Linked DNA regions of Homo sapiens: region 2 is linked to region 1. Evidence: fine-mapped expression QTL. A gene starts in region 1. The other region holds a variant in brackets. All regions are shown on one strand. Distances are between the middles of the regions.

Region 1 (16,181 bases):
GATTTTCATGTTTTATTTCACCTGAGAACACTCCAGCTTGGGAGATGCCCTTGGGATATGGTGTGGCACTGAGCTTTCCAGATGTGGTGACATTGATCACAGATAGGTGGCACCCACCAGAAATGTACAGCCCGGATCCAGGAGTGTATTTGATCAAATTCATTCAGATGTCTTTGGGTCATAATGGGAAAATGCACGTCCAGAACCCAGCCAATCTTGTTTGAGAAGCAGGCATTTGAAAACAAATTACACGGGCCTGGAGACTGTCTGATTTCAGGCAGAGGCCAGAAATAGGAGGAAAGCACAATATTGCGTTTATATCAGACATCTTGGCAAAGCTGTTGATCTGCTACTGCCTCTGCTTGCCTCATGGGGAAACGCTTGATCAGAAAGCGAGATGATGAATTAGAATATCACAATTAGCAGCCCTCAGTGAATTAATGGATCTAGGCATTAAGTGGCATTGCCTGCCAACATCAGCAAAGAGTGGAGTGCAGTTGTCACGTGCCTTCTGTTGAAAGAACACAGCACCGCTTGTATCGTGACGAAGGGCTTGAGCTTGACCCTGTTCCCACTGCAAACATGCAGAAAGACAAGACAGAGGAGTCCAGGCGTGGTGACTCACGCCTCTAATCCCAGCACTTAGGGAGGCCGGGGTCGAGGATTGCTTGAGCCCAGGAGTTTGAGAGCAGCTTGAGCAACATAGTGAGACCCTGTCTCTACAAAAACTAAAAATAAAAATTAGCCAGGTGTGGTGGTGCATGCCTGTAGTCCGAGCTACTCAGGAGGCTAAGGTGAGAGGATCACTTGAGCCCAAGAGGTAGAGGCTTCAGTGACCTGTGATTACGCCTCTGCACTCCAGCCTGGGTGACAAAGGGAGACCCTGTCTCCGAAAAAAAAAGACAGAGGAACATGTTGAAGTGGACCATGGATCTGCAATCAGGAAACTCTAGGCTGTAGACCAGGGACACTTTTTAAAAGAAAAACTTTAGAAAGAATAAATTTAATAGTTTACTATCATGATCAAGTATTAGGTACTGTACATAATTGTATGTGCTAGACTTTTTGTTTTGTTTTCTTTTGTTTTGCTTTGAGACAGGGTCTCACTCTATCACCCAGGCTGGAGTGCAGTGGTGCCATCGTGGCTCACTGCAGCCTTGGCCTCCTGGGCTCAAGCAATCATCCTGCCTTAGCCTTCTGAGTACCTGGGACTACAGGTGCACACCACCATGCCCGGCTAATTTTGTATTTTTTATTTTTGTAGGGACAGCCTCTTGCTATATTACCTTGTGTCAACTGTAATCACAGCACTTTGGGAGGCCGAGGTGGGTGGATCACATGAGGCCAGGAGATCAAGAGCAGCCTGGCCAACAAGATGAAACCCTGTCTCTACTAAAAATACAAAAGTTAGCCGGGTGTGGTGGTGCATGCCTGTAATCCCAGCTACTTGGGACGCTGAGGCAGGAGAATCTCTTGAACCCGGGAGGTGGAGGTTGTAGTGAGCCGAGATCTTGCCACTGCACTCCAGCCAGGGCGACAGAGCAAGACTCCGTCTCAATAAAAAAAAAAAAAAAAGTTAGTTTTTAAATATATATATTTCAATCAATTAAAGTTATTTTTAAGTCAGGCCTTTTGCAGTATAGTTGATGTATGGTAAAGCTCATCCTCTTTAAGCATACGGTTGGATAAATTTCAACAAATAATATACCAACGCTTCATTCAGGGTTTAAAGCATTTCCTTCACCTCCCAAAATTCCCCTGCGCCCCTTCTCAGTCAATCCCCTTCCCCACTCCCCATTTTGGGATGTCACCGATATAATTTCTGTCCCTGGAGTTTTGCTTTTTCCAGAAAAGGCTGAATGTACATACAGGGTATATAGGTATATACTCCTAGGTATATACTCAAGAGAATTGAAAGTGTTGCCTGGGCGTGGTGGCTCACACCTGTAATCCCAGCACGTTGGGAGGCCGAGGCAGGCAGATCACTTGAGGTCAGAAATTTGAGACCAGCCTGGCCAACATGGTGAAATCCTGTCTCTACTAAACATACAAAAAAATCAGCCGGAAGTGGTGGTGCACGCCTGTAATCATAGCTGCTTGGGAGGCTAAGCAGGGGAATCACTTGGACCTGGGAGGCAGAGGTTGCAGTGAGCTGAGATCACACCACTGCACTCCAGCTTGGGCAACAGAGCGAGACTTCATCTCAAAACAACAACAAGAAAATGTTATGCCTACACAAAAACTTGCACATGGATTTTCATAGCCATATTATTCATAATGGCCAAAAGGTGGAAACAGCCCAAAAGTTCACCAACCAAGGGCACTGTATACTTAAAGAAGGTGAGCTTCACTGTCCATCAATTACACCTCAATAAGCCTGACTTTAAAGTAACTTCAATGGATTGAAATACATAAATTAAAAAAATTCTTTCCCTCCCTCTCTCCCTCCCTCCCTTCCTCCCTCCCTCCCTTCCTTCCTTCCTTCCTGCCTTTCTTTCTTTTTTTTTTTACTTTTTGAGATGGAATCTCACTCTGTTGCCAAGGCTGGAGTGCAGTGGCATGATCATGGCCTGTTGCTGCCTCCACCTCCCCAGATTCAAGTGATCTTCCCACCTTAGCCTCCCTAGCAGCTGGGAGTACAGGTGCATGCCTCCTTGTCCGGCTAATTTTTGTATTTTTTGTAGAGACAGGGTTTTGCTGTGTTGCCCAGGCTGGTCTTGAACTCCTGGGCTCAAGCAATCCACCCCCCCGCAACCTCCCAAAGTGTTGGAATTATAGGCATGAGCCACTGCGCCTGGCCAAAATTAATAATTTCAAAATGACACTAAAAATCCTCATTAGTTATTTTGGAGGAAGCCAGAAAACAATACAATCTGAAATGGACAAAGAAAATGTGGGATATTCATGCAAGGGAGCATTATTTGACAATAAAAAGAGTAAAGTACGGATACATGCTGTGTCTTAGTTTACCTGGCCTTCCATAAAAAAATACCATAGACCGGGTGGCTTAAACAACAGAAATCTGTTTTCTCACCATTCTCTGGGCTGGAACTTTGAGATCAGGGCACCAGCATGATTGATTTCCGGTGAGGGCTCTTCCCTTGGGTTGCAGATGGCCACCTTCTCACTATGTACTCACATGACCAGTTCTTTGTGTGAGTATGGGAAGAGACAGAGAGAGAGAGAGACAAAGACAGAGACAGAGAGAGTGAGCGTACTCTGATGTCTTTTTTTTTTTTTTTTTTTTTGAGACGGAGTCTCACTCTGTTACCCAGGCTGGAGTGCAGTGGCATGATCTCGGCTCACTGCAAACTTTGCCCTCTGAGTTCAAGCGATTCTCCTGCCTCAGCCTCCTGAGTAGCTGGGATTACAGGCACCTGCCACTGCGCCCGCCTAATTTTTGTATTTTTAGTGGAGACGGTGTTTCACCATGTTGGTCAGGCTTGTCTTGAACTCCTTACCTTGTGATCCTCCCGCCTTGGGCTCCCAAAGTGCTGGGATTACAGGCGTGAGCCACTGAGCCCGGCCTGATTTCTTTTCTTATAAAGGCATTATCCCACCATAAGGACCCCATCCTTGTGACCTCATCCAAACCTAATTATCTCCCAAGGCCTCATCTCCAGGAACCACCACATTAGGGGTTACAACTTCAACACATGTATTTTGGAGAGACACAAACATTCAGTTCATAACATGCTACAAAATGAATGAACCCTGAAAACATGCTAAGTGAAAGAAGCCAGACATGAAAGGTCCCGTATTGCATAATCAATCCCATTTATATGAAATGTCCAGAATAGGCAAATCCATAGAGACAGAAAGAATATTAGTGGCTGCCAGGGGCTGGGAGGAAGAGGGAATAGGGGGTGACTGCTAATGAGTTCAGAGTTTATTTTGGGGGTGATGAAAATGTTCTGTAATTAAATAATGGTGACTGTTGCACAACTTAGTACACTAAAAACCCACAAAGTTGTACACTTTATTATTTATTTTTATTTATTTTTATTTATTTTTGAGACGGATCTCACTCTGTCACCCAGGCTGGAGTGCAGTGGGACTACCTCGGCTCACTGCAACCTCTGCCTCCCGGGTTCAAGTGATTCTCCTGCCTCAGCCTCCTGAGTAGCTGGGATTACAGGTGCGCACCACCGTGCCTGGCTAATCTTTTGTATGTTTAGTAGAGATAGGGTTTTGCCATATTGGCCAGGCTGGTCTCGAATCCCTGACCTCAGGTGATCCACCTGCCTTGGCCTCCCAAACTGCAGGGATGACAGGAGTGAGCCACTGCACCTGGCTGTTGCACACTTTATTTATTTATTTTGAGACAGGGTCTTGCTTTGTCACCCATGCTGGAGTGCAGTGGCGTGATCATGGTTCACTGCAGCCTTGACCTCCCTGGCTCAAGTGATCCTCCCATCTCAGCCTCCCAAGTAGCTGGGACCACAGGCCCGTGCCACTACACCCACCTAATTAAAAAAATTTTTGTTGGTAGATACGGGTTCTCACTATGTTGCCCGGGCTGGTCTCAAAGCCCTGGGCTGAAGCGATCCCCCGGCCTTGGCCTCCCAAGGTGCTGGGATTACAAGTGTGAGCCATCACACGCAGCCTGTACACTTTAAAATGGTAAATTTTATGGCATGCAAATTATATATTGATTTTTAAAAAGAAAAAAGACTTAAGATGCACATCAGAGATTTAAAAAATAACCAGGGAAAATTGAACGTGGATTCTATATGAAATCATATTAAAGAGTTATTAATTTGAGGGTTGTGTGATGACAATATTGTGATTATATATTTTAAAAATCCCTACATGCTGGTGAAATGGCATGTTTGAGATTTGCTTTAAAATATTCCTGGAAAAAAAAATTGGGGGATGAGTGAAGCTGGAATGACAGAAGAGTGATCATTTTTTTCTTTTGTTTTGAGACAGAATCTCGCTCTGTTGCCCCGACTGGAGGGCAGTGGAGCAATCTTGGCTCACTGCAACCTCCGCCTCCTGGGTTCCAGTGATTCTGCTGCCTCAGCCTCCTGAGTAGCTGGGATTACAGGCATGCACCACCACACCTGGCTAATTTTTGTATTTTTAGTAGAGACAGGGTTTCACCATGTTGGCCAGGCTGGTCTCAAAGTCCTGACCTTTTATGGACAACTCTGTGGAAATAACTTTTTTGTTTTTCTATTGGTATTTGAAGTTGTTTTTTCCCCTTCTCCTTGGAGTTTATTCTGCCTCAACTGATTCACCCGCCTCGGCCTCCCAAAGTGCTGGGATTACAGGTGTGAGACACTGCACCCAGCCAGATTGACAATTTTTGAATCTGAGTAACTGCTATATGGGGGTCTGTTATACTATTCTACCTTGTTTCAGTTTGTTTAGACAACTTCCACTATAAAGGAATGAATTTTTTGGGTAGATGGAAATGTTTTGTATCTTGATTATTATAGTAATTACACAGCTCTATAAATGTGCTAAAAACTTTTAGAAATGTATACTGAAAAGGGTAAAATGTAGTATATGTAAATTAGCCCTCAATAAACCTGAAAAAAATCCCCAAACTAATGACAACTAAATGTTCTAGATACGTTAGTGTTTGTAGTGATGCTGTAACAGCAGGGGAATTGCCAGGGTGAGGAGGAGGAGGAGGGGGAGGAGGAGGGGGAGGGGGAAGAGGAAGAGGAGGAGGGAGGAGGGAGGAAAAGGAGGAGGGAGGAGGGAGGAAAAGGAGGAGGGAGGAGGAATGAAAAGGAGGAAGGGAGGAGGAAGGAGGAAGAGGAAGGAGGGAAGAGGAGGAAGAGGAGGAAGTAGGAAGAGGAAGGAGGTGGAAGAGGAAGGAGGAAGAGGAGGGAGGAGAAGGAGGAGGAAGGAGGAAGAGGAGGAAGGAGGAAGAGGAGGAGGAAGGAGGAAGAGAAAGGGAGTAGGAGGAAGGAGGAAGAAGAGGAAGAGGAGGAAGGAGGAGAAGGAAAAAGGAAGGAGGACGAGGAAGGAGGAAGAGAAGGAAGGAGAAAGGAAGAGGGAAGAGTAGGAAGGAGGAGGGGGAAAGAGGAGGAAGAAGAGGGAGGAAGGAGGAAGACGAGGAAGGAGGAGGAGGAAGAGAAGGAGGAAGAGGAAGGAGGAAAAGGAGGAAGGACAAGGAAAAGAGGAGCAGCAGCAGGCAGCGACTGGGGCTGAGATTCAGGGTGACTGCATAAGGGATTAACTTGAACAACCCGTGTTCTCTCTATAAGGCCCTGCCTGCCTGCTGGGCACCTCTTAGGGTAAGGGCCAGCATTCTTTGGTGACACCATGGATCACACAATGAAGAAGATGCCCAAGTCATACCTGCTCTCCCCCGATGGTGTCACTCTGTAGCCATTTTCCCCCACCAGAGGGGAGACAGGGAGGAGGCGAGGGGATGGAAGAGAACTAAATCAGAGACGGAATTCCAGCCTGATCTGCAGAGCAGACACAATGGTCCAGACCTTGCAGAGTCCAGAGGGGCAGATGGGAGGACCACGCACACACGCTGAGCCCTGTGTGGTTGTCGAATTTTGGGAGCAGCCACCAGCCCACAGGGTTTGAATTCCTGTCACACTTCTTACAAGCCGTATGACCTTGGACAAGTGTCTTAACCTTTCTGGGCCTCAGTTTCCTCATTGATAAACTGAGATTTTGCACTTCCATGAGATTGTTGTGAGAGATTCAGTGAATGTAAAGACCTTAGTCCTGGCCGGGTGCGGTGGCTCACGCCTGTAATCCCAGCACTTTGGGAGGCCAAGACAGCAGATCACTTGAGTCCAGGAGTTTGAGACTAGCCTGGCCAACATGGTGAAACCCCATCTCTACTAAAAATACAAAAATTAGCCAGGCATGGTAGTGCACATCTGTAATCCCAGCTACTTGGGAGGCTGAAGCAGGAGAATTGCTTGAACCCTGGAGGTGGAGGCTGCAGTGAGCCAAAATCACGCCACTGCACTACAGCCTGGATGACAGAGTCTGAGACTCCGTCTCAAAAAAATTTTTTTTTTCTTAATTTTTTTTTTATTAATAGAACTGAGGTCTTACTATGCTGACCAGGCTGGTCTCGAACTCCTGGGCTCACGCAATCCTCCCACCTTGGCCTCCCAAAGTGCTGGGATTACAAGCATGAGCCATTGCGTCCGGCTTGTTTTCGGAGTGGGAGCTCGTCTGCTTTTTTAACCTGTCCTTTAGCCTGAGTCATTCATGGACTCTACCATGGCTCTCGATGTGTGAACTCAAACCACCTGTTCATTCCTTGGTCCTGCTTTTGTTCAGGCCCCAGGCTGCCAGCTGGTGTCATCATAACTCACTCATGGGCCAGGGCCGTTCGGACATCCTGAAGTCATTTCTCACGTGAGCCGTGTCCAGCTGCCAGGGCCGGGTGGTCCTGTGCAGGCCGTGGGTGCGGTGTGCGCTGTGGCTGATGGCTGAGTGGCAGCGCTGCTCTTACATAATCAGTTTCTCTCCTCCTTTCTCTTCCTAGAGCCAGATTTCACACTGAGCAGCTGCAGTCGGAGAAATCAGAGAAAGCGTCACCCAGCCCCAGATTCCGAGGGGCCTGCCAGGGACTCTCTCCTCCTGCTCCTTGGAAAGGAAGACCCCGAAAGACCCCCAAGCCACCGGCTCAGACCTGCTTCTGGGCTGCCATGGGACTTGCGGCCACCGCCCCCCGGCTGTCCTCCACGCTGCCGGGCAGATAAGGGCAGCTGCTGCCCTTGGGGCACCTGCTCACTCCCGCAGCCCAGCCACTCCTCCAGGGCCAGCCCTTCCCTGACTGAGTGACCACCTCTGCTGCCCCGAGGCCATGTAGGCCGTGCTTAGGCCTCTGTGGACACACTGCTGGGGACGGCGCCTGAGCTCTCAGGGGGACGAGGAACACCACCATGCCCCGGGGCTTCACCTGGCTGCGCTGTGAGTACTGGGGGGTCCCTAGGGACCTGCATTGGGAGGCCTTGGCCTAGATCCAGGATCTGCCGTAACCATAGCAACCAGGGCATTCTTGCTGGTGAGAAGTTGCGATGCTTCCCAGCCGGACTGCAGACACCCTCTGAGATTCCCACGGCCGCCGTCTGCCCTGTCTGCCGCTCACTTCGGGCTCCGACGGGCAAGCTGGGTGGGCAGTTCTGGCTGGGTGGGCATGGTCCTCAGGGTGGTCTTAGGTCGGGGCAGGCACTGGGGGTAGGTGGCAGCATCTCACCTTTCCAGGCTTGTGGGTGTTGGGGAGCCCCGGGCGGGCAGCAGCGGCCCAGTCCTGGGTATGGCCGGTGGAGGGGGGCAGGGGCTGGTGAAAGTGTCTAGGGACCCAAGACCCACGGCAGAAGAGCAGCCAGATGCCTGGAGAAGGCAGCCTGTTCCCCTCCAACCCTCCCTCCATAACAGAACAGAATTAAAAAGCAGAAAGATAACACTGTTGGTAAAAAGAAAAATAAGTTGAAATGAGGACAGAAAGGAAAAAAAGGATCTGGAAGCCTCTTATGCCTGCTGGCTGGGAGGCCAGACCAAGATCCCCTCAGTCTCCAAGATCCAGTTCAATTGACTCAAATTCAACACATTTTTCCGGTGCCTCCCACGTGCCCACTGCAGAGTCACTGCCATGACAACAAGGACCTTGCTGTCTCGTGCCTCTGTCTCCAACGCCTGGCACAGGGTTGAGTGCTCAGGAACTGTTGGAGGTTTGGGGTATGAGCCTGCGAGGGATTGAAAGAAGAGTTGGGTCCACCCTGGCCCTTGTGGAAATATACAACAAAGGGTTGGGACATTAAGGATGGGTGGAAGGACCCAGCTGGACCCAATGTTCTGGAAACCCCTAGGTCATGAGAAGCAGGGGTGCAGCATGGGGGAGGGGCTACTGGAAATGGTCTAGAAGGTGGGGTGGTGGTCACACAGGTAGACCTGGGGTCATGAGGCCCATGTTCCAGGAAGAGGGGCCAGTGTGAGCAAAGGTTTGGCGGTGGGATGGTGAGGCCAGGCTGGGAGCTGGTTTGGACCCGGCTGGCTGAGGCCTTGAGAGCCAAGCAAAGTGTGCCTCCCTCCCCATAGCAGGCAGCCCTGGAGGATTTGAGAGCCCGGCGGGGGTGGAATCGTGATTGGGAGTTCCTCTGCTCTTGAAGATCAGTCTGGTGGTGTTTGTAGGAGTTACTGCTGTCACCGTCTGTGCAGGAGGGAATGAGGGTCATTCTGGAGGTGGAGGTGCGAATGAAAGGCAAGGGATGCTGGGCTGGTGGCTCACGCCCGTGATCCCAGCACTGTGGGAGGCCAAGGCAGGAGGACGGCTTGAGGCCAGGAGTTTGAAACCAGGCTGGGCAGCATAGCGAGACTCCATCTCTAAAAAAAGGAAAATTAGCCAGGTGTGGTGGCATACATCTGTAATCCCAGCTACTCAGGAGGCTGAGGTGGGAGGATCACTTGAGCCCAGGAGGTTGAGGCTGCAGTAGCAAGGATCGCATCACTGCACTGCAGCCTGGGCAACAGGGTGAGACCCTGTCTTTAAAAAAAAAAAAAAAAAAAAAAAGGAGAAAAGAAAAAGAGAGAAAGAAAAGCAAGGGAGAGGGGAAAAAGCTCCAGGAGGGGTGGGTCTTAGGACCAGGCAAAGACTGGCTGGGGGATGAGGGAGAGGGAGAGCAGCAGATTGAGGTGGGGGCTGGTGCCCAGGGGCTGGGGTGCTGAGGAAGTTGGGCTGCCATAACCAATTAGAAAGCTTCGGGTGGCTTAGAGCAACAGGAATGTGTCGTCTCACAGTTCTGGAGACCGGAAGTGTGAGATCAGGGTGCCTGCAGGGCTGCGTTCCCTCTAAAGGTGCCGAGAAGGAGCCTCCCTTGCCTCTTCCAGCTCCTGGTGGCTCCTGGCTTCCTTGGCTTGTGGCCTAGTCACTCAGATCTCCCTTTGTCTTTGCGTGGCCTTTCCCTTTGTGTGTCTCTATGTCCTCTCCTCTTCTTCCTAGGACACTAGTCACTGGATTTAGGGAACTGCCTAAATCCAGGATGGCCTAATCTTGACATCCTTCATTTAATAATGCCTGTAAGTGGCACAGGACAGGCGAGCCCCCAAGGGGGCTTAGCCTGCGAGGGTTCTTGGCTTTCCCTAGGAGAGAATTCAAGGCAAGCTGGTGGTAGAAGAAAACAGCTTTACTGAAGAGATGTTATAGCTCTGTGCCAGCTCCTGCAGAGCAGGGCTGTGCCAGAGGAAGCGTACTGAGGAGCAGCTCGGGGCCTTTTGCAGTCATATTTATACCCACCTTTAATTGCATGCAGATTAAGGGGCAGTTTATGCAGACATTTCTAGGGAAGGGGTAGTAACTTTTGGGACATTGGGTCATTGCTATGGAAAGCGGTGGTAACTCCCAGGCGTTGCCATGGCAATGGTAAACTGACATGGCACACTGCTGAGCATGTCTTTTGGAATGCTGCTTCTGCCCCGTCCACCCCTGTTTTCACTAGTCCTCAGTTTGGTCCAGTGTCAGGGCTCTGCCTCTGGAGTCGGTCCTACCTCCTACTTCACAAAGACCCCATTTCCAAACAAGGTCACACTCGGGTTCGGGTGAATGTGGATTTGGAGGAGATGCTATTTAACCCACTGCACAGGTTCAGATTTGGTCCCCGGGGCTGGGGGTGACAAGCCTCACTTGTCACTGCACATAGGGTCAACCCAGGGCCAGGGAACCAGGAAGGGAGTACCGTACTCACACAGATCTTTCTTAAGCCTCCTCTCTGTCTTGCAGGTTGTTTTATTATTTTATTTTTATTTTTATTTTTTGAGACGGAGTCTCACTCTGTCACCCAGGCTGGAGTGCTGCGGCACGATCTCAGCTCACTGCATCCTCTGCCTCTTGGGTTCAGATGATTCTTGTGTCTCAGCCTCCCGAGTAGCTGGGACTACAGGCACCTGCCACTGCGCCTGGCTAATTTTTGTATTTTTAGTAGCGATGGGGTTTCACCATGTTGGCCAGACTGGTCTTGAACTCCTGACCTCAGGTGATCCGCCCACCTCGGCCTTCCAAAGTGCTGGGATTACAGGTGTGAGCCTCCGTGCCCAGCCTGTGTTGTGGGTTCTTACCTCTGGGCTAAGACAAGGGCAGGGTGGGTCTCCTGACCAAGGTCAGGGGTGGCACTGGCTGTGGGGTTCCTGGTGTGCAGAGCATGTGGGGGACAGTGGCCTTGAGGTTGGGGCTGTGCTGTCCCTGCCTGGTCCCTGTTTGTTAACCTGTTTCTCTGGGTGGGTGGAGGCAGCAAAAAAAGAAACTTGCCCTTAGCAATGATGTTTGGGCTGCACTCAGAGGAAGGCTGCCCAGTTGGGGGAGAGGCAGATCATCTGTGGACAGGGTTTCCAGGGCAGCTGTGTGCCCACCGTGTCAGGCTGGGAGGCTCAGTGTCACTCCAAGGCACAGTCCCTGCCTTGAGGCCACAGCTGCCGGGTCCCCAGGGCCCCAGAACGGGACACAGAGAAGGGCAGGTGCTGTAGGGTTGGGAGGTGAAGTAGACGGCCAATGGTGATGGCCACACAGGAAAAAAGACCCAGTGTGGACAGAGGTACTGATTTTTTTAAAGAAAAGCTGAAATTTTGAATTGTTGTGTGAAATCCTTGTGGACCAGAGGTGGCTCTCGGGACACCAGCTTGCAACTGTTGCTCTAGGTCTGTGGTTCCAGACCCCCAGCCACAGCTTTACCTGGGACCTTGTTAGAAAGGTAGACTCTCTGCATCCTAGACTGGTTGAGCAGAGACTCTGGGGCAGGCAGGACAACCTGTGCCTTAACGAGCTCTGCAAGGGATGACAATGTCTGCTCCCATTTCTACTGCTTGAGGCGAATCCCCAAATGCACATGTGAAGTTCTCAGCACGCTGGGCTGTGCAGTGTTTAACTGCGTTATGGATTCACACACAGGCTCACGCCTGTAATCCCAGCACTTTGGGAAGCCGAGGTGAGTGGATCACGAGGTCAGGAGTTCAAGACCAGCCTGGCCAACCTGGTGAAACGCCGTCTCTACTAAAAATACAAAAAAAATTAGCCGGATGTGGTGGCGCGCACCTGTAATCCCAGGTCATGAGTGAATGGGGAAGGTGGTGCTGGAGACAGAGACCGATGGGGGCTGATGCAGAAAGGGGAGACCCTGGCGTGGTGATGGGGGGGAGAGAAGAGTCTCTGGGAGGCTTTGAAAGAGGTCTGTGTTGTGAGAGGGTACCTAGCGCAGGGCAAAGCATGAGCCCAGGAGGCAGGGATGATCTTGACCTGCAAGAGTAGATGCTAAGCTGAGGGGTTCAGGACTTAGGACAGAAAGTAAGCAGATGTTAAAGGGCCAAACACTGGTTCAGTTCATGTTTATCTGTTCTTCTCACCCAATACTGTATCAGGCACAGGGGAAGAGGGAGAGAGGAAGTGCAAGATAGATTGCAGACTTGCAACTTAGCAAAAAATGTGGGGCTATATGGGGTACAGGGCTTGAGGAGACCTGAGGCTCTGAGCTGAGCAAGGGCACTCCTGGTGGGAGGTCCTGCAGGGACAAAGGCGAGGCAGGAGGCCTGAGCAGGGCAGGTTTGGAGAAGGCAGTGGGGAGGTAGCAAATGGGTGGTGTGGCCCAGACCAGAGGGGCTGCAAGGACAAAGTCTTCCAAGATGCTGGGGAGTGGGGAAAATCCAATCAGTAATTCCTGCTCATAGCTGGGGGTGGCTCAGGGAGGTGACTCAGCCTGCCTGACTGCTTTTGTAAAAAAAAAAAAAAAGAGGATGGTTATTGCTTTTGTCTGTAACAATAATACATATGGATTATAGAACATAAAAAATGTCCTGGGTGGGTGCGGTGGCTTATGCCTGTAATCCCAGCACTTTGGGAGGCTGAGGTGGGTGGATCACGAGGTCAGCAGTTCAAGAGCAGCCTGGCCAACCTGGTGAAACCCCGTCTGTACTAAAAATACAAAAAAATTTAGCTGGATGTGGTGGCGCACACCTTGTAATCCCAGCTACTCGGGAGGCTGAGGCAGGAGAATGGCATGAGCCCAGGAAGCGGAGGTTGCAGTGAGCCAAGATTGCGCCACGGCACTCCAGCCTGGGTGACAGAGCGGGACTCCGTCTCAAAAAAAAAATAAATAAAAATAAAAATAAATGTCCTGCAAGGCCAAGGCCAGGTGTGGTGGCTCATGCCTGTAATCCCAGCACTTTTGGAGGCCAAGGTGGGAGCATCACTTGAGCATAGGAGTTCAAAACCAGCCTGGGCAAAACAGCAAGACCTCCTCTCTACAAAAAATTAAAAAAAAAATTAGCTGGGTGTGGTGGTGGCACCTGTAGTACCAGTTACTGGGAGGCTGAGGCAGGAGGATTGCTTGAACCCAGGAGTTTGAGATTGCAGTGAACAATGATGGTGCCACTGCACCTGTCTGCCTGGGCGACAGAGCAAGACCCTATTTGAAAAGAAAAACATGAAAAAATCTCCCATAGAGATTTGGTAGTCATGCTATGAACACAGATAGTGTTGAGTCATGCTGTTTTTAAGCTTCACTAAGCATATCTAATTGTTCTCATAGCACAGCCACATCTTTGACAATGTGATTTTTATTGGCTACATGCATTATTATGGAACGTCTAGGCCATTTCCAGATTTTCACTGTTATAAAATAAATGCTGCTCTGTACATCTTTGTTCATAATTTATTGGTTATATCTTTTTTGCTTTTCTTCCAATTTATTCCTAGAAGTGTATTTACTGGGTGAAAGAGTATAGACATTTTTAAGGCTTAGTGGTTTGAAGGGTGCGGATACTACTAAATCGATTAATAACAGAAATTGCTAAATTGCTTTCCAGGACAGCACTTGTCTCACTACTTGGCCAACATCAAGTAGTAATTGTTAAAACGAAATGAGCTGGGTGTATGACCGGGCATGGTGGCTCGTGCCTGTAAATCCAGCACTTTGGGAGGCAGAGGCAGGGAGATCAACTTGAGGTCAGGAGTTTGAGAACAGCCTGGCCAACATGGTGAAACCCCATCTCTACTAAAAATACAAAATATTGGCCGGGTGTAGTAGCCCCTGCTTGTAATCCCAGCTACTTGGGAGGCTGAGGCCTGAGGCACGAGAATTGCTTGAGCCTGGGAGGTGGAGGTTACGGTGAGCTGAGATTGTGCCACTGTACTCTAGCCTGGGTGACAGAGAAAGATTCTGTCTAAAAAAGAAAAAGCTGGGAAGCTGGGTGTAGTGGCACATGCCTCTCATCCCAGCTACTCAGGAGGCCACGATGGAAGGACCGCTTGACACTAGGAGTTTCAGACAAGCCTGGGCAACATAGCAAAACCCTGTCTCAAAAAAAAAAAAAAAAAGCCCCAACAACCCAAAACCACAAACACAAAAACTTTTTCATTTGAATAAAATGGGCCAGGCACAGTGGCTCACACCTATAATCCCAGCACTTTGGGAGGCTGAGGCAGGAGAATTGCTTGAGCTCAGGAGTTCGAGGCAAGTCTGGCCAACATGGCGATACCAGGTCTCTACAAAAAATACAAAAATTAGCAGGCGTAGTAGCATGCAACTGTAGTCCTAGCTACTCTGGAGGCTGAGGCAGAAGGATCGCTTGAGTCTGGGAGTTCTAGGATGCAATGAGCCATGATCCCACTACTGCACTCCAGCCAGGGTGACCAAAAAAAAGAAAAAGAAAAATTATATCTGATTGTTTTAATGTGAATTTATTTATCTAGTTAGTGAGTCTGATATTTTGGGTAGTTGCTGGCCTACTTCTGTTTTATTCTTTCTGCTCTGATGGACTTAACCTTTATTCATATTTGTTGCGAATTCTCTCCTTTTTTTCTGTTCAGTCACATGGAAATCGTATAGGCTGTTTTTGGAGTCACAGTGACCCCCAGTGGCAAAGGATGGTAATGTTTCAGCGGCTCGTTTGTTGCAGGAAGAGAGGCAGCCAAGTATGAGATCTGCTTAACGTCCTAGAATGACCAGACTGGAAGGCGCTACAGACCCGCTGGCATAGTTAGCTGGGAGGGACACTAAGATCAGATAGAGCAGGAAGGAAAGTGGTGTGGGGCGTGGGTGACTGAAGAGTCATTTTATCAAGTTGAAACCAGAATCCAGGATGATTCGATCTCCTGAATGCCGGGCTGGAAAACCCAGCAACGAGCTTTGAAAACATATCACCCGGACACCAGGGGCAGAGGCTGTTCTGGGCGGGAGGTTGTGCCTGCCCCACGGAGCGACAGAAGCGGGGAGACCAGACGTCGACCCTGAGGCGTGCCTCCTGGGGGGCTCCAGTGGCCGGCATGGGGTGGGTGTGGACTCTCTGCACTGCTAGTGCCTGCCTGACCTTGCTGTTCTGGAGCCAGACCCCAGGGAAAGCATTCCAGATCCCGTGCCCCCCACCACACCTTTCCCATTGGTGCTTGTCTCCTATGCAAATGGATGATGGTTGTGCTCGGCTTTGCGTGTTGTGGACGGCGTGGATGAGATGGAGGGTGCTCATGTGCTCTTGTCGGGTGTGGTCCACAGATCTTGGGATCTTCCTTGGCGTGGCCTTGGGGAATGAGCCTTTGGAGATGTGGCCCTTGACGCAGAATGAGGAGTGCACTGTCACGGGTTTTCTGCGGGACAAGCTGCAGTACAGGAGCCGACTTCAGTACATGGTAACCACGTGGGCACCAGCTGTGTCCCTGTCCCCGCGTCCCGGGGTTCACCTGGCATAGGCCTCTGGACATTCAGAGCCCTTCTTAGGACCTGTGTCAGCCCTGAGCCGACCATGGCCTGTTTCTCTGCCTTTCTCCGAAACCTACCCATGCACCTGGTCTGCACTTACTGACCCTCCTCCTGCCATCTCCTGGGGCCTCCACCCCTCCTCCTCGATCTCACTTTAATCCCACCTCCATGATGGCAGTCACCATATGACTCAGGAATGGACACCTGGAGCTCTTTGACAAACCCCAGGCACTTATTAGCCAGGGAGCTAAAGACCTAGAAATCGGAATATTTGGTTCTTTTTGCAGAGTGGAGATGTCTGTGTGGCTCTATGTATCTTTTTTTTTTTTTGAGACGGAGTCTTGGTCTGTCACCAGGCTGGAGTGCAGTGGCTCAATCTTGGCTCACTGCAACCTCCACCTCCCCGGTTCCAGTGATTCTCCTGCCTCAGCCTCCCGAGTAGCTGGGACTACAGGTGCGCGCCACCATGCCCAGCTAATTTTTGCAATTTTAGTAGAGACGGGGTTT
Region 2 (16,181 bases), 26 kb before region 1:
CAGGGTGGAGTCCAGTGGTACAATCTCAACTCACTGCAACCTCTGCCTCCCCGGTTAAAGCGATTCTCCTGCCTCAGCCTCCCAAGTAGCTGGGATCACCACGCCCAGCTAATTTTTATATGTTTAGTAGAGGCGGGGCTTCACTGTGTTGGCCAGGCTGGTCTCGAACTCCTGACCTCAAATGATCTGCCTGCCTTGGCCTCCCAAAGTGCTGGGATTACAGGCCTGAGCCACTGTGCCCGGCCTCAGACCACATCTGTTGAGAAATGCATGTCGTCTTCTTCAGGTTCCCACAGCAGGGCCGGTCGAAGGGGTGTCACTGGAAGTGAAGGTGACGCAACTGAAAAAATAATTTTGTGAGAAGTGTATTTTTGCAGAGGCTGGTGGTTTGAACTAATCTCCCTGGTAAGTGGTTTATTTCTCCGGAGAGTGAAGGACTGTGCATGATTTAGTAAATTTCCATGCCATGTTCTGAAGGGCTGGCATCCCTTCTTGGCTCAGGCAGGCTTGTAGCGTAGACTGGGGACATGGGGTTGGAGCGGGGCGGTTTCCTGAGGCATGGCGGCCACACTGGATGGGGCCTCACCTGGTCTCCACCCTTACTGTACAAGTGCCCTTGGCAAGTCACTTACCTTTTCCAAGGCGCAGTTTCCTCATCTGTGAAACAACTGGAGTTGGCTATTCCGGAACCTTGGTACTCAAAGTGTGGTCTGCAGACCAGTGGTATCTGCAGCACCTGGGAGCTTGTCAGAAATGCAGAGTCCAGCCAGGAGTGGTGGCTCACACCTGTAATCCCAACACTTTGGGAGGCTGCGGTGGGTGGATCACCAGAGGTCAGGAGCTCAAAACCAGCCTGGCCAGCACAGTGAAACCCTATCTCTACTAAAAATACAAAAATTAGCCAGGCATGGTGGCGTGCACCTGTAGTCCCAGCTACTTGGGAAGCTGAGGCAGGAGGATTGCTTGATCCTGGGAGGTGGAGGTTGCAGTGAGCTGAGGTTGCGCCACTGTACTCCAGCCTGGGTGACAGAGTGAGACTCTGTCTCAGGAAAAAAAAAAAGAAAGAAATGCAGAGTCCAGCCAGGCACGGTGGCTCACCCCTGTAATCCCAGTGCTCTGGGAGGCTGAGGCAGGAGGATTGCTTGAGGCCAGGAGTTTGAGACCAGCCTGGGCAATACAACAAGGCTTTGTCTCTTAAAAAAAAAAATTATCCAGGCGTGGTGGTGCACGCCTGTAGCCCCAGCTACTCAGGAGGCTGAGGTGGGAGGACTGCTTGAACCCAGGAGTCTGAGGCTGTTGTGAGCTGTGATCATGCCCCTGCACTCCAGCCTGGGCAATGGAGCAAAACCCTGTCTCAAAAAAAAAAAAAAAGAAGTGCAGTATCCCAGGCCCTACCCCAGACTTTCTGAGTGAGTCTATATTTTAACAAGATTCCAGGTAATGTGTCTGTATGGCACAGTTTGAGGAACCCTTCTTTGGAGCAGACTCCTCAAATGTGGTCCTTGCACCACCCCATCAGTGTCATCCGAGAGACAAAGCATGCTGGAAATGCAAGTTCATGGGCCCCTGACCTACTGAATTGTATGTCTGAGGGAGGGGCCTGGAGCCTGTGTTTTTTAACAGCCTCTCCAGGTGGTTCTTAAGCCCGCTGAGGTTTGAGAAGCATGGAAGCTCAGATTCAACAGTGATGGGAGCCGAGGTTTAGCTGTGGTGCAGCTGCTGAACACGGAACCTGTTTTGTTTTTGTGCTGCTTTCAGAAATGTGCACACACTTGCCTTTCACAGCAATTTCATGATGTTGTTTGTCCTTATCTTTGCTCTGCCTAAGAGATAACTGGGTTTTAAGGGAAGTTATGTGAATTGCCTACACTCTTTGTGTCTCACAGTGTCTTGCAATAGCAATATTCACATAAAGCATTTCTGGCAAGTGTCAGTGAGCTGTTACAGGTGATAAAACTTCTTGTAAATATTTGTTCCTTGATTATAAATGACAGAGGCTCTGTTGGAACAGGAGCTGGGGTAGATCTTGTAGGTCTTGCCCAAGGCTCAGGAGCTGATGAACTGCAACTCCTCTGTTTTACTGCTTAGTATTTTGATTAGAGAATAAACTCATACGGTTTCAACATCATGTAAAATAGAACTATAGCAAAGAGTTTTCTTCCTGCTCCTGTCCCATAACCGGCCTCACCGGGTAACTGTTTATATTTTATTGGGTCTAATCTAATTAGAGCTGATCCTCAGGAAAACAGAAACTCCTGATCTATGGCTCCCCTGTTACCCCCCAAATCTCTGGACTTACGGTGTATGCATTTTTGCAACTTATTTTACTACCCTGACAAAAAGTCCATCGAATTCTAGACTTATTTGGGTTAACAAACATCTTCTTTTAAAGATACACTGGCCAGGTGTGGTGGCTCACGCCTGTAATCCCAGCACTTTGGGAGGCCGAGGTGGGTGGATCAAGAGGTCAAGAGATCGAAACCATTCTGGCTAACATGGTGAAACCCCGTCTCTACTAAAAGTACAAAAATTAGCTGGGCGTGGTGGTGCTCACCTGTAGTCCCAGCTACTCAGGAGGTTGAGGCAGGAGAATTGCTTGAACCTGGGAGGTGGAGGTTGCAGTAAGCCGAGATTGCGCCACTGCACTCCAGCCTGGCAACAGAGCAAGACTCCGTCTCAAAATAAATAAATAAATAAATAAATAAAATAAAGATACACTGTCTCTGAAAGGTGTCTGAGTTGCCAATCTTTCACGCTTTAGTGTGAATTATTCTAATATGTTCACTTTATGCAAATGCAAGCATATACAAATATATAGATATAGATATAGGTAGATGAAAGTGCCAGGCGCAGTGGCACGTGCCTGTAATCTCAGCACTTTGGGAGTCTGAGGTGGGGCAAATCACTTGAGCTTAGGAGTTTGAAACCAGCCTGGGCAACACAGTGAAATCCCATCTCTACCAAAAATACAAAAAATTAGCTGAGTGTGGTGGTGCACACCCGTGGTCTCAGCTACTCGGAAGACTGAGGTGGGAGGATCTCTTGAGCCCAGGCAGTGGAGGTTGTGGCAAGCTGAGATGGCACCACTGCACTCCAGCGTGGGTGACAGATTGAGATCCTGTCTCAATAAAAAAATCCGTCCCCCCTCAAACTCCTTCCACAGATATTTATAGATAAAAGCTTTGCCACCTCTGCTGAACACAGCTTCCAACATAGAAAACACACCATTCAGTGTCTTGCTTGTTTTACTGAATCTATCATGCTATACTACTGTGTGGTGAACATGCAGGTTATACCATCTGCTATCACAGACGCTGATGAGATGAAAAATCTCATACACGTGGCCTGTTGCAGGTGCATACTGTATATGCAGGATAAATTCCCAGAAACGGCATTGCTAAGTATCTGCATTTGTGATTTGAGAGATATTGCCAATTTCCACTCCATAAGGTTAATACCAATTTGCACTTCCATCAGCTTTGGATGAAAAATTAGTTTGCCCGCATCATTGCCAACACATTAAATTGGATTTATATCATTGGATTTTTACCAATCTGATAGGTGAAAAACAGTGACTCAATGTAGTCTTAATTTAAATTTGTTATGAAAAAATTTTAATTTATAATGTGTTTAAGGCCTATGTATTTTTCTATGACCGTCTTACTCATATTGTTTTGCTTATTTTATTTATTTATTTTTTTGTGAGCAACATGTCTGTTTATTTCACCTGGGTGCAGGCGGGCTGAGTCCGAAAAGAGAGTCAGCAAAGCGTGCTGGATTATCATTAGTTCTTATAGGTTTTGGGATAGGCGGTGAAGTTAAGAGCAATGTTTTGCGGGCAGGGGTGGATCTCACACAGTACATTCTCAAGGGTGGGGAGAATTACAAACAACCTGCTTAAGGGTGGGGGAGATTACAAAGTACATTGATCAGTTAGGTGGGGCAGGAACAAATCACAATGGTGGAATGTCATCAGTTAAGGCTATTTTTACTTCTTTTGTGGATCTTCAGTTACTTCAGGCCATCTGGATGTATACGTGCAAGTCACAGGGGATGCGATGGCTTGGCTTGGGCTCAGAGGCCTGACATTCCTGCCGCCTTATATTAATAAGAAAAATCAAAATAGTGTTGAAGTCCTGGGGCGGCGAAAATTTTTGGGGGGTGGTATGGAGAGAGAGTGGGCGATGTTTCTCAGGGTTGCTTCAAGCAGGATTAGGGGTGGCGTGGGAACCTAGAGTGGGAGAGATTAAGCTGAAGGAAGATTTTGTGGTAAGGGGTGATATTGTGGGGTTGTTAGAAGAAACATTTGTTGTGTAGAATTATTGGTGATGGCCTGGATATGATTTTGTATGAATTGAAAAACTAAATGGAATAAGAGAAGGAGAAAAACCGGTATAAAAGGTCTAAGAATTGGGAAGACCTAGGACATCTGATTAGAGAGTGCCTAAGGAGATTCAGTATAGTCCTGCCAGCAAAGATTATTTATTTACTTCAAGAGTTAAGAGTGGCAGTTTGGGGATAGCACGAGGAGATATCAGCTGTGATGGCTTGGAGAAACTGTGTAAACCGGCAGTGTAAACAAGAGCAGGGCATGTATGAGTAGTTGAGAACGGAGAATAGGAGTATGACTAGACAGAAGATAGTAGGGATGACAAGTTTTTTTGGGGCACAGTCTAAGTTGGTCTGGTGTCTGGAATGAGACTGGGGCCTAATAAAAAGGAGCGTCTATACAGGAGCTTAAATGGGCTGTACCCCCTGTAGCATTCCGAAGACAGGCCTGAATTCTGAGAAGGGAAAGTGGTAAAAGTATTGTCCAGTCCTTTTTAAGTTGGTGGCTGAGCTTGGTGAGGTGTGTTTTTAAAAGACCTTTAGTCCATTCTACTTTTCTTGAAGACGGAGGACCGTAAGGGATATAAAGGTTTCACTGAATACTAAGAGCCTGAAAAACTGCTTGGCTGATTTGACTAATAAAGGCTCGTCTGTTATCAGACTGTATAGAGGTGGGAAGGCTAAACTGAGGAATTATGTCTGACAGAAGGGAAGAAATGACTGCGGTGGCCTTCTCAGACCCTGTAGGAAAGGCCTCTACCTATCCAGTGAAAGTATCTACCTAGACTAAGAGGTATTTTAGTTATCTGACTCAGGGCATGTTGAGTAAAGCTAATTTGCCAGTCCTGGGTGGGGCAAATCCTCCAGCTTGATGTGTAGAGAAGGGAGGGGGCCTGAATAATCCCTGAGGAGTAGTAGAATAGCAGATGGAACACTGAGAAGTTATTTCCTTGAGGATAGATTTCCACAATGGAAAGGAAATGAGAGGTTCTAGGAGGCGGGCTAGTGGCTTGTACTATAGCATAGCCTGCCTTTGCTGGTGTGTGGTGATTAGGCCTGGTGGAACCTCCATCAATAAATCAAGCGTGATCAGGGTGAGGAACAGGAAAGAAGGAAATTTGGGGAAATGGGGTTAATGTCAGGTGGATCTGAGAGATACAGTCATGGGGGTCAGGTGTGGTATCAGGAATAATGTGGGAGGCCGGATTGAAGTCTGGGCCAGGAACAACGGTAATTGTGGGAGACTCAACAAAGAGTGAGTATAGCTGAAGGAGCCGGGAAGCAGAAATTATATGCGTCAGGTATGAGGAAGAAAATAGATTTTGGAAGTTATGAGAAATGTAGAGAGTGAGTTGAGCATAGTTTGTGATTTTGAGGGCCTCTAAAAGTATTAATGCAGCGGCAGCCGCTGCACGCAGACATGAGGGCTAGGCTAAAACAGTAAGGTCAAGTTGTTTGGACAGAAAGGTTACAGGGTGTGGTCCTGGCTCTTGTGTAAGAATTCTGACCACGCTAACCATGCCTAGGGAGGAAAGGAATTGTTTTGTAGAAGGTGCTGGGGTTTGAGAGATCAGTCGGACAGGGAGATCACGTGTGTTTTTATGAGAATTATGCAGAGATAGGTAACAGATGAGGAAGAAATTTGGGCTTGATTGAAGTAATGGGGGCTGTCTGTGAAGCTTTGCAGCAGTACAGCCTAGGTAATTTGCTGAGCTTGATGGGGGTCAGGGTCAGTCCAAGTGAAAGTGAAGAGAGGCTGGGATTAACGGTGCAAAGGAATAGTAAAGAAAGCATGTTTGAGATGTAGAACAGAATAATGGGTTATAGAGGCAGGTATTGAGGATAGGAGAGTATATGGGTTTGGCACCACGGGGTGGATAGGCAAAACAATTTGGTTGATAAGGCATAGATCCTGAACTAACTTGTAAGGCTTGTCTGGTTTTAGGACAGGTAAAATGGGGGAATTGTAAGGAGTTTATAGGCTTTAAAAGGCCATGCTGTAGCAGACGAGTGATAACAGGCTTTAATCTTTTTAAAGCGTGCTGCGGGATGGGATATTGGCGTTGAGTGGGGTAAGGGTGATTAGGTTTTAATGAGATGGTAAGGGGTGCATGATCGGTCGCCAAGGAGGGAGTAGAGGTATCTTGTGGGTTAAGGTGGGGGAATACAAGAGGAGACGCAAAGGAGGCTTTGGATTGGGAAGAAGGGTGGCAATGAGATATAGCTGTAGTCCAGGAATAGTCAGGGAAGCAGATAATTTAGTTAGAGTATCTCGGCCTAATAAGGGAACTGGGCAGGTGGGGATAACTAAAAAGGAGTGCTTAAAAGAGTATTGCCTAAGTTGGCACCAGAGTTGGGGAGTTTTAAGAGGTTTAGAAGCCTGGCCGTCAATACCCACAACAGTTATGGAGGCAAGGGAAACAGGCCCTTGAAAAGAAGGTAATGTGGAGTGGGTAGCCTCCGTATTGATTAAGAAGGGAAAGGGCTTACCTTCCACTGTGAGAGTTACTCGAAGCTCAGCGTCTGTGATGGTCTACAGGGCTTTCGAGGCGATCGGGCAGTGTCAGTCTTCAGCCGCTAAGCCGAGAAGATCTGGGAAGGAGTCAGTCAGAGAGCCTTGGGCCAGAGTTCCAGGGGCTCTGGGAGTGGCTGCCAGGTGAGTTGAACAGTCCGATTTTCAGTGGGGTCCCACACAGATGGGACGCGGCTTAGGAGGAATCCCGGGCTGCCGGCATTCCTTGGCCCAGTGGCCAGATTTCCAGCACATGTAGCAAGCTCCTGTGGGAGGAGGTTCTGGAGGAACGCCTGGCCGCTGCGGTTCAGGAGTTTGGAAGTTCTTGTGTGCTGGAGATGTGGCTGGGGTTTGTCTCACAGTGGAGGCAAGGAATTGCAACTTTTTTCTATTATTGTACACCTTGAAGGCGAGGTTAATTAAATCCTGTTGTGGGGTTTCAGGGCTGGAATTTAATTTTTGGAGTTTTATTTAATGTCGGGAGCACATTGGGTAATAAAATGTATTTTGAGAATAAGATGGCCTTTTGACCTTTTAGGGTCTAGGGCTGTAAAGCGTCTCAAG[G/T]TTGCAGCCAAACAAGACATGAACTGGGCTGGATTTTTATACTTGATGAAAAAGAGCCTAAACGCTATCTGATTTGGGATAAAGAAAAAGGAGCATTCACCTTGACTATGCCTTTGGCTCCAGCCACCTTTTTAAGAGTGAATTGCTGGGCAGGTGGGGGAGGGCTAGTCACGCAACGAAACTGTAAGCCCCACCAGGTGTGAGGAGGGGAGGTGATAAAAAGATAGGGTGGAGGAGCGGAGGCTGAGGAAGAATTGGGACCTAGCTCAGCCTGGCGAGGAGGGGAGAGGTCAGATGGGTCTGTAGAAAAGGAAGATTAGAAAGACTCAGCGACACTTGGGGTTGGGACTGAGGGGACAGGCGGGAGGGAAAGAAGGAAGATTTGGTACGAGTTGCATTGGGCACAGAGACTAGGAAGGGACTGATGTGTAAAAGAATGCCTGGACGTCAGGCACCTCAGACCTTCTGCGTATTTTACAACAAGAATTATTTAGATTTGCAGGATGGAAAAATTCAAAGTGCTATTTTCTGGCTATTTGGAACTACTGTCGAGTTTGTATTGGGATCAAGGGGCATTGCAGAAGAAAAGGCACTTAGGTTTTAGGTCAGGTGTGAGTTGAAGAGGTTTTAAGTTTTTGAGAACACAGGCTAAGGGAGAAGAAGGAGGAATGGAATGTGGAATCTTACGTATAGTGAAGGAGGCAAGCCCAGAGAAAAGAGTAGAGACACGGAGAAGGGGTGGAGGGTTCTTGCCCTCCAGAAAAGCAGAGAAGGGGTTGGGGCACGGAAATAAGGGATTGAGACACAGAGATAAGAGTTTGGGTGTGGAAATAAGCAATTAGGGGGTTCTTGCCCCCTAGGAAAGCGGGACTTGTCGCTAAGGGTGAAGGAGAAGGGGTTGAGGGGTACTTGCCCCTGCCCCAGGAAAGCAGGACTTGCCGCTAAGGTTGAAGGACCAAGGCAGGCGTCCCTGCATGGTCTGACACCCTTGAAGCGTGCCTGTATAATCAGAGAGGCGTCCCTGCAATGATTAAACACCAAGGGAAGGCTGCCTTCCCAGTCCGTGACTGGCACCGGAGTTTTGGGTCCACGGATAAAACATGTCTCCTTCGTCTCTCCCAGAAAATGAAAGGAATTGAAATTAAGAGAAGGGAGAGATTGAAGAGTGGAAAGAAGAAAGTGGTTGAGGGACAGTGAGAGAGGTTGGAGAAGAGTAAGAAGGGGCCGCTTACCTGATTTAAAATTGGTGATATTCCTTGGGCTGGTCGGTCTGAGGACCTGAGGTCGTAGGTGGATCTTTCTCATGGAGCAAAGAACAGGAGGACAGGGGATTGATCTCCCAAGGGAGGTCCCCCGATCCGAGTCATGGCACCAAATTTCATGCGCGTCCGTGTGAAGAGACCATCAAACAGGCTTTGTGTGAGCAACATGGCTGTTTATTTCACCTGGGTGCAGGCAGGCTGAGTCCGAAAAGAGAGTCAGTGAAGGGAGATAAGGGTGGGGCCGTTTTATAGGATTTGGGTAGGTAAAGGAAAATTACAGTCAAAGAGGGTTTGTTCTCTGGCGGGCAGGAGTGGGGGTCGCAAGGTGCTCAGTGGGGGTGTTTTTGAGCCAGGATGAGCCAGGAGAAGGACTTTCACAAGGTAATGTCATCAGTTAAGGCAAGGACCGGCCATTTACACTTCTTTTGTGGTGGAATGTCATCAGTTAAGGGGGGGCAGGGCATATTCACTTCTTTTGTGATTCTTCAGTTACTTCAGGCCATCTGGGCGTATATACGTGCAAGTCACAGGGGATGTGATGGCTTGGCTTGGGCTCAGAGGCCTGACAGGTTTCACTGAATACTAAGAGCCTGAAAAACTGCTTGGCTGATTTGACTAATAAAGGCTGGTCTGTTATCAGACTGTATAGAGGGGGGAAGGCTAAACTGAGGAATTATGTCTGACAAAAGGGAAAAAATGACTGTGGTGGCCTTCTCAGACCCTGTAGGAAAGGTCTTTGCTTATTCAGTGAAAGTGTCTATTTAGACTAAAAGTTATTTTAGTTATCTGACTCAGGGCATGTTGAATAAAGCTAATTTGCCAGTCCTGGGCGGGGGCAAATCCCTGAGCTTGATGTGTAGGGAAGGGAGGAGGCCTGAATAATCCCTGAGGAGTAGTAGAACAGCAGATGGAACACCGAGAAGTTATTTCCTTGAGGATAGATTTCCACGATGGAAAGGAAATGAGAGGTTCTGAGAGGCGGGCTAGTGGCTTGTACTATAGCATAGCCTGCCTTTGCTGGTGTGTGGCGATTAGGCCTGGTGGAACTGCCATCAATAAATCAAGCGTGATCAGGGTGAGGAACAGGAAAGAAGGAAATTTGGGGAAATGGGGTTAATGTCAGGTGGATCAGAGAGATACAGTCATGGGGGTCAGGTGTGGTATCAGGAATAATGTGGGGGGCCAGATTGAAGTCCGGGCCAGGAACAATGGTAATTGTGGGACTTAAAGAGTGAGTACAGCTGAAGGAGCCGGGGAGCAGAAAGTATATGCTTCAGGTATGAGGAAGAAAATAGATTTTGGAAGTTATGAGAAATGTAGAGAGTGAGTTGAGCATAGTTTGCGATTTTTAGGGCCTCTAAAAGTATTAATGCAGCGGCACCCGCTGTATGCAGACATGAGGGCTAGGCTAAAACATTAAGGTCAAATTGTTTGGACAGAAAGGCTACAGGGTGCGGTCCTGGCTCTTGTATAAGAATTCTGACCACACTAACCATACCTAGGAAGAAAAGGAGTTGTTTTGTAAGGGATTGAGGTTTGGGGGATTAATCGGACACGAGCAGCAGGGGGAGCACCTGTGTTTTTATGAAGAATTATGCTGAGATAGGTAACAGATGAGGATGAAATTTGGGCTTGATTGAAGTAATGGGGGCTGTCTGTGACGCCTTGCAGCAGTACAGCCCAGGTAATTTGCTGAGCCTAATGGGTGTCAGGGTCAGTCCAAGTGAAAGCGAAGAGAGGCTGGGATGATGGGAGCAAAGGAATAGTAAAGAAAGCATGCTTGAGATCCAGAACATAATAATGGATTGTGGAGGGAGGTATGGAGGATAGGAGAGTATATGGGTTTGACACCATAGGGTGGATAGGCAAAACAATTTGGTTGATAAGGCACAGATCCTGAACTAACTTGTAAGGCTTGTCTGGTTTTAGGACAGGCAAAATGGGGGAATTGTAAGGAGAGTTTATAGGCTTTAAAAGGCCATGCTGTAGCAGGCGAGTGATAACAGGCTTTAATCCTTTCAAAGCATGCTGTGGGATGGGATATTGGCATTGAACAGGGTAAGGGTGATAAGGTTTTAATGAGATGGTAAGGGGTGCATGATCAGTCGCCAAGGAGGGAGTAGAGGTATCTTATACTTGTGGGTTAAGGTGGGGGAATACAAGAGGAGGATGCAAAGGAGGCTTTGGATTGGGAAGAAGGGTGGCAATGAGATGTAGCTGTAGTCCAGGAATAGTCAGGGAAGCAGATAATTTAGTTAAAGTGTCTCGGCCTAATAAGGGAACTGGGCAGGTGGGGATAACTAAAAGGAGTGCTTAAAAGAGTATCATCTAAGTTGGCACCAGAGTTGGGGAGTTCTAAGAGGTTTAGAAGCCTGGCCGTCAATACTCACAACAGTTATGGAGGCAAGGGAAACAGGCCCTTGAAAAGAAGGTAATGTGGAGTGGGTAGCCTCCGTATTGATTAAGGCGACGGACTTACCTTCCACTGTGAGAGTTACTCGAAGCTCGGCGTCTGTGATGGTCTACGGGGCTTTCGAGGTGATCAGGCAGCGTCAGTCTTCAGCCGCTAAGCCGAGAAGGAGTCAGTCAGAGAGCCTTGGGCCAGAGTTCCAGGGGCTCTGGGAGTGGCTGCCAGGTGAGTTGAACAGTCCGATTTTCAGTGGGGTCCCACACAGATGGGACGCGGCTTAGGAGGAATCCCGGGCTGCCGGCATTCCTTGGCCCAGTGGCCAGATTTCCGGCACGTGTAGCAAGCTCCTGGGGAAGGAGGTTCTGGAGGAATACCTGGCTGCTGTGGTTCAGGCATTTGGAAGTTCTTGTGTGCTGGAGATGTGGCTGGGGTTTGTCTCACAGTGGAGGCAAGGAATTGCAACTTTTTTTCTGTTACTGTACACCTTGAAGGTGAGGTTAATTAAATCCTGTTGTGGGGTTTGAGGGCCAGATTCCAATTTTTGGAATTTTATTTAATGTCGGGAGCACATTGGGTAATAAAATGTATTTTGAGAATAAGATGGCCTTTTGACCTTTTAGGGTCTAGGGCTGTAAAGCGTCTCAAGGTTGCAGCCAAACAAGTCATGAACTGGGCTGGATTTTTATATTTGATGAAAAAGAGCCTAAACGCTATCTGATTTGGGATAAAGAAAAAGGAGCATTCACCTTGACTATGCCTTTAGCTTCAGCCACCTTTTTAAGAATAAATTGCTGGACAGGTGGGGAAGGGCTAGTCACTGAACGAAACTATAAGCCAGACAGGGTGTGAGGAGGGGAGGTGATAAAAGGATTATAGGGTGGAGGAGGGGAGGCTGAGGAAGAATTGGGACCTAGCTTGGCCTGGAGAGGAGGGGAGAGGTCAGATGGGTCTGTAGAAAAGGAAGATTAGAAAGACTCAGTGACGCTTGGGGTTGGGACTGAGGGGACAGGCGGGAGGGAAAGAAGGAAGATTTGGTACGAGTTGCATTGGGCACAGAGACTAGGAAGGGACTGATGTGTAAAAGAATGCCTGGACATCAGGCACCTCAGACCATTTGTCTATTTTACAGCAAGAATTATTTAGATTTTGCAGGATGGAAAAATTCAAAGTGCCATTTTTTGGCTATTTGGAACTACTGTTGAGTTTGTATTGGGGTCAAGCAGCATTGCAGAAGAAAATAAGGCGTTTAGGTTTTAGGTCAGGTGTGAGTTGAAGAGGTTTTAAGTTCGTGAGAAGTCAGGCTAAGGGAGAAGGAGGAATGGATGGTGGAAGGTTGCCCATAGTGAAGGAGGCAAACCCAGAGAAAAGAGAGCATAGAGATATGGAGGGAAGGGGTTCGGGGGTTCTTACCCTCCAGAAAAGTGGGAAGGGGGGTCGGGGCATGGAAATAAGGGATTGGGGCACAGAAATAAGAGGTTGGGGTGCGGAAATAAGGGATTGGGGGTTCTTGCCCCCTAGAAAAGCGGGACTTGCCGCTAAGGGCGAAGGAGAAGGGGTTGAGGGGTACTTGCCCCTTCCCCAGAAAAGCAGAGAAGGGGTAGAGAGGGAGAGAAGGAGTTGGGGAACTTGCCCCTCCCCCAGAAAAGCGGGACTTGCTGCTAAGGGTGAAGGACCAAGGCAGGCATCCCTGCGTGGTCTGACACCTTTGAAACGTGGGTGAATAATCAGAGAGGTGTCCCTGCAATGATTAAACACCAAGGGAAGGCTGCCTTCCCAGTCCGTGACAGGCGCTGGAGTTTTGGGTCCACCGATAAAACGTGTCTGCTTTGTCTCTCCCAGAAAATGAAAGGAATTGAAATTAAGAGAAGGGAGAGATTGAAGTGTGACGCCAAGATTGAAAGGAGAAAGAGGTTGAGGGATAGTGAGGGAGATTGGAAAAGAGAGTAAAAAGTGGCCACTTACCGGATTTGAAATTGGTGAGATGTTTCTTGGGCTTGTCTGTCTAAGGACCTGAGGTGGTAGGTGGATCTTTCTCACAGAGCAAAGAGCAGGAGGACAGGGGATTGATCTCCCAAGGGAGGTCCCCCGATCCGAGTCACGGCACCGAATTTCATGCGCGTCCATGAGAAGAGACCACCACACAGGCTTTGTGTGACCAACATGGCTGTTTATTTCACCTGGGTGCAGGTGGGCTGAGTCCAAAAAGAGAGTCAGCCTGTTTTGCTTATTTTTAAAATTACATTGTTGGCTTTTTCTTTTTTATTTCTATGAGCTGTTTACATATTAGTGAGATCAGTCTTTTGTGCCTTTGATATAAATTGCATTCAGTTTAGTGTGTCTCTTTTATTTTATTAATTTTTTGTTTTAGTATATACAAGTTTTTATTTCTATGGAGTCAAATTTATCAGTCTTTTATGGTTTCTGAATGTTTAATCATAGGTACCAAAACCTTCCCACTTTAAGAAAACACGATGTGTGTGGGTTTGTTTGTTTTTGTTTTTGTTTTTTTGAATCAGAGTTTTGCTTTTGTTGCCCAGGCTGGAATGGAATGGTGCAATCCTGGCTCACTGCAACCTCTGCCTCCCAGGTTCAAGTGATTGTCCTGCCTCAGCCTCCCGAGTAGCTGGGATTACAGGCATGCGCCACCACGCCCGGCTAATTTTGTATTTTTAGTGGAGATGGGGTTTCACCATGTTGATCAGGCTGGTCTGGAACTCCTGACCTCAGGTGATCTGCCCACCTCAGCCTCCCAAAGTGCTGGGATTCCAGGTGTGAGCCACCACACCCGGCCAAAAACATGATGTCTCCTATGTTTTCTTCTATTATTTTATATTCAAATTTTGATCCTTTTGGAATTTATCCTGATGTGTGCTTTGAGGAGTAGGTCTAATTTTATTTTTTCTTCCAGATGACTTTTTTCAGCTAAATTGAGAAGCTATTTTATCATAAGCCATTTATCATGAGCTCTTTTCTCTGTATGTATTTGAGTCTATTTCAGAACTTGCTACTCTTTTCCATTAGTTTCTCTTTCTGTTCATGTTCATTCAAGTTCCCACTGTTTTGTTTATTAAGGTTGATAATATTTAAAAATATATATGTTTCTTATAGAGACAGGGTCTCCCTATGTTGCCCAGGCTGGTCTTGAACTTCTGGACTCAGGGGATCCTTCCACCTCAGCCTCCCAAAGTGCTGGGATTACAGGCCTGAGCCACTAAGCCTGGCCCTAAAAAATATATTTTAATATATGAAAGGGATGTTCTTCCCCTTATATGTTGAGCTCTTTCAGGCTATTCTTGCTCATTTTTTTCCATTTGAACTTTAACATCTAATATCTAATTACACAAACACACAGGAAAGCTGAAGTATAACACACATATAGCAAAGTAAATAAATTGGAAGTATACAGCTTGATGAGCTATCACAAAGTGAACACACCCTTGCAACTATTACCAGCGTGTAGAAGCCCCCCACCAGATCCCCAAACACTCACTATCCCTCCCTCCCTCCAAAGGTGCATCCCTCCTCTCCCCTCCCCCTCCGCTCCCCTCCCCCTCCTCCCCCTTCCCTCCCCTCTTCTTTTTCTTTCTCTTTCTTTGAGACAGGCTTTCTCTCTGTTACCCAGGCTAGAGCACAGTGGTGCTATCTAGGCTCACTGCAGCCTCTGTCTCCTGGACTCAAGCAGTCCTCCCAAGTAGCTGGGACTACAGGCACAAGCCACCATACCTGGCTAATCTTTTTATTTTTTTGTAGAGATGGGATCTCACTATGTTGTCCAAGCTGGTCTCGAGCTCCAGGGCTCAAGAGATCTGCCTACTTCAGATCCCAAAGTGGTGGGGTTGCAGGTGTGAGCCAGTGTGCCTGGCCCTTATTTCTTGTCACAGATTGGTTTTGCTGTGTTTTTTTAAAAAACTTTAAACACGTGTATTCTTTTGTATCTGGTTTCTTTTGCTCAACATTTTATTTGTGAGGTTTATTTATCCACATGCCATGAATATTGTAACACATGGCTTTTGGTGCCCATGTATACAGATTTCTGTTGGATATTTACTTACGAAAGAAATTGCTAAGCTGTGGGATATGCACACGTTCAATTTCAGAAAATACTGCCAAACTGTTCTCCAAGTAGATATGTGACAATTTACCTTCCTTCCAGAAATGTCTGAGAATTCCAATTATTCTACATTGTTGCAACACTTGGATTTTTTTGGTCTTTTTAATTTTATTCACTCTAGGGTGTGTGTGTAGTGGTAATTAATTGTGGTCGAGCACCTTATTATATATTTATTGGCCATTTAAATATACTGTCTTGTGAAATGCATTGGGATTGCTTTAAATTTATACATTAACTTCAGAGAATTGGACCTACTTATGATGTTAAATCTTCCCATCCAAGAACACAGTATATCTTTTTCCATTTGTTTAACTCTTCTGTGTCCTTTAGCATTGTTTACAGTTTTTTAGTATATATCTTGCACATTTCTTGATAAGTTTATTTCTAGGTATTTTACATTTTTTGTTGTTATGTAAGTGGTCTCTTTTCTAACTGGCTAGTGTGTGGGTTTGTTTTTATTTATTTATTTATTTATTTATTTTTTTTTTTGAGACAGAGTCTTGCTCTGTTGCCCAGGCTGGAATGCAATGGTATGATCTTGGCTCACTGCAATCTCCGGCTCGCGGGTTCAAGCGATTCTCCTACCTCAGCCTCCCAAGCAGCTGGGATTACAGGCACCCGCCACCATGCCTGGCTAATTTTTGTATTTTTAGTAGAGATGGGGTCTCACCATGTTGACCAAGCTGGTCTTGAACTCCTGACCTTAATTGATCCACCCGCCTTGGCCTCCCAAAGTCCTGGGATTACAGGCATGAGCCATCACACCTGGTCTTTTTTTTTTTTTTTTTTTTGAGACAGGGTCTTACTGTATGCCCAGGCTGAAGTGCAGTGGCTCAATCACAGCTCACTATAGCTTCGAACTCCTGGGTTCAAATGATCCTTCCACCTCGGCCTCCCGAGGAGCTGGGACAGCAAGCATGTACCATTGTGTCCAACTAACTTTTGTATTTTTAATGTATAGACAGGGTCTTGGTATGTTGCCCAGGCTGGTCT

What was found.
Region 2: its variant is fine-mapped to the expression of IL34 in lung (TOPMed, PIP 0.90).

What each region holds. Positions count from the first base shown.
Region 1 is chr16:70,639,068-70,655,248 of GRCh38, forward strand. IL34 (interleukin 34) reads left to right here and starts at 7,492. Exons shown (of 6, transcript NM_001393494.1): 1 at 7,492-7,908; 2 at 15,471-15,604. The coding sequence starts at 7,881. RefSeq lists an enhancer at 10,724-11,224.
Region 2 is chr16:70,612,828-70,629,008 of GRCh38, forward strand. It overlaps a transcript of IL34 not described here. Among named protein-coding and RNA genes, the nearest start is that of IL34, 26 kb to the right of the region's middle. RefSeq lists enhancers at 8,653-9,200, 9,201-9,748. The variant G/T (reference allele first, on the strand shown) is at 7,406.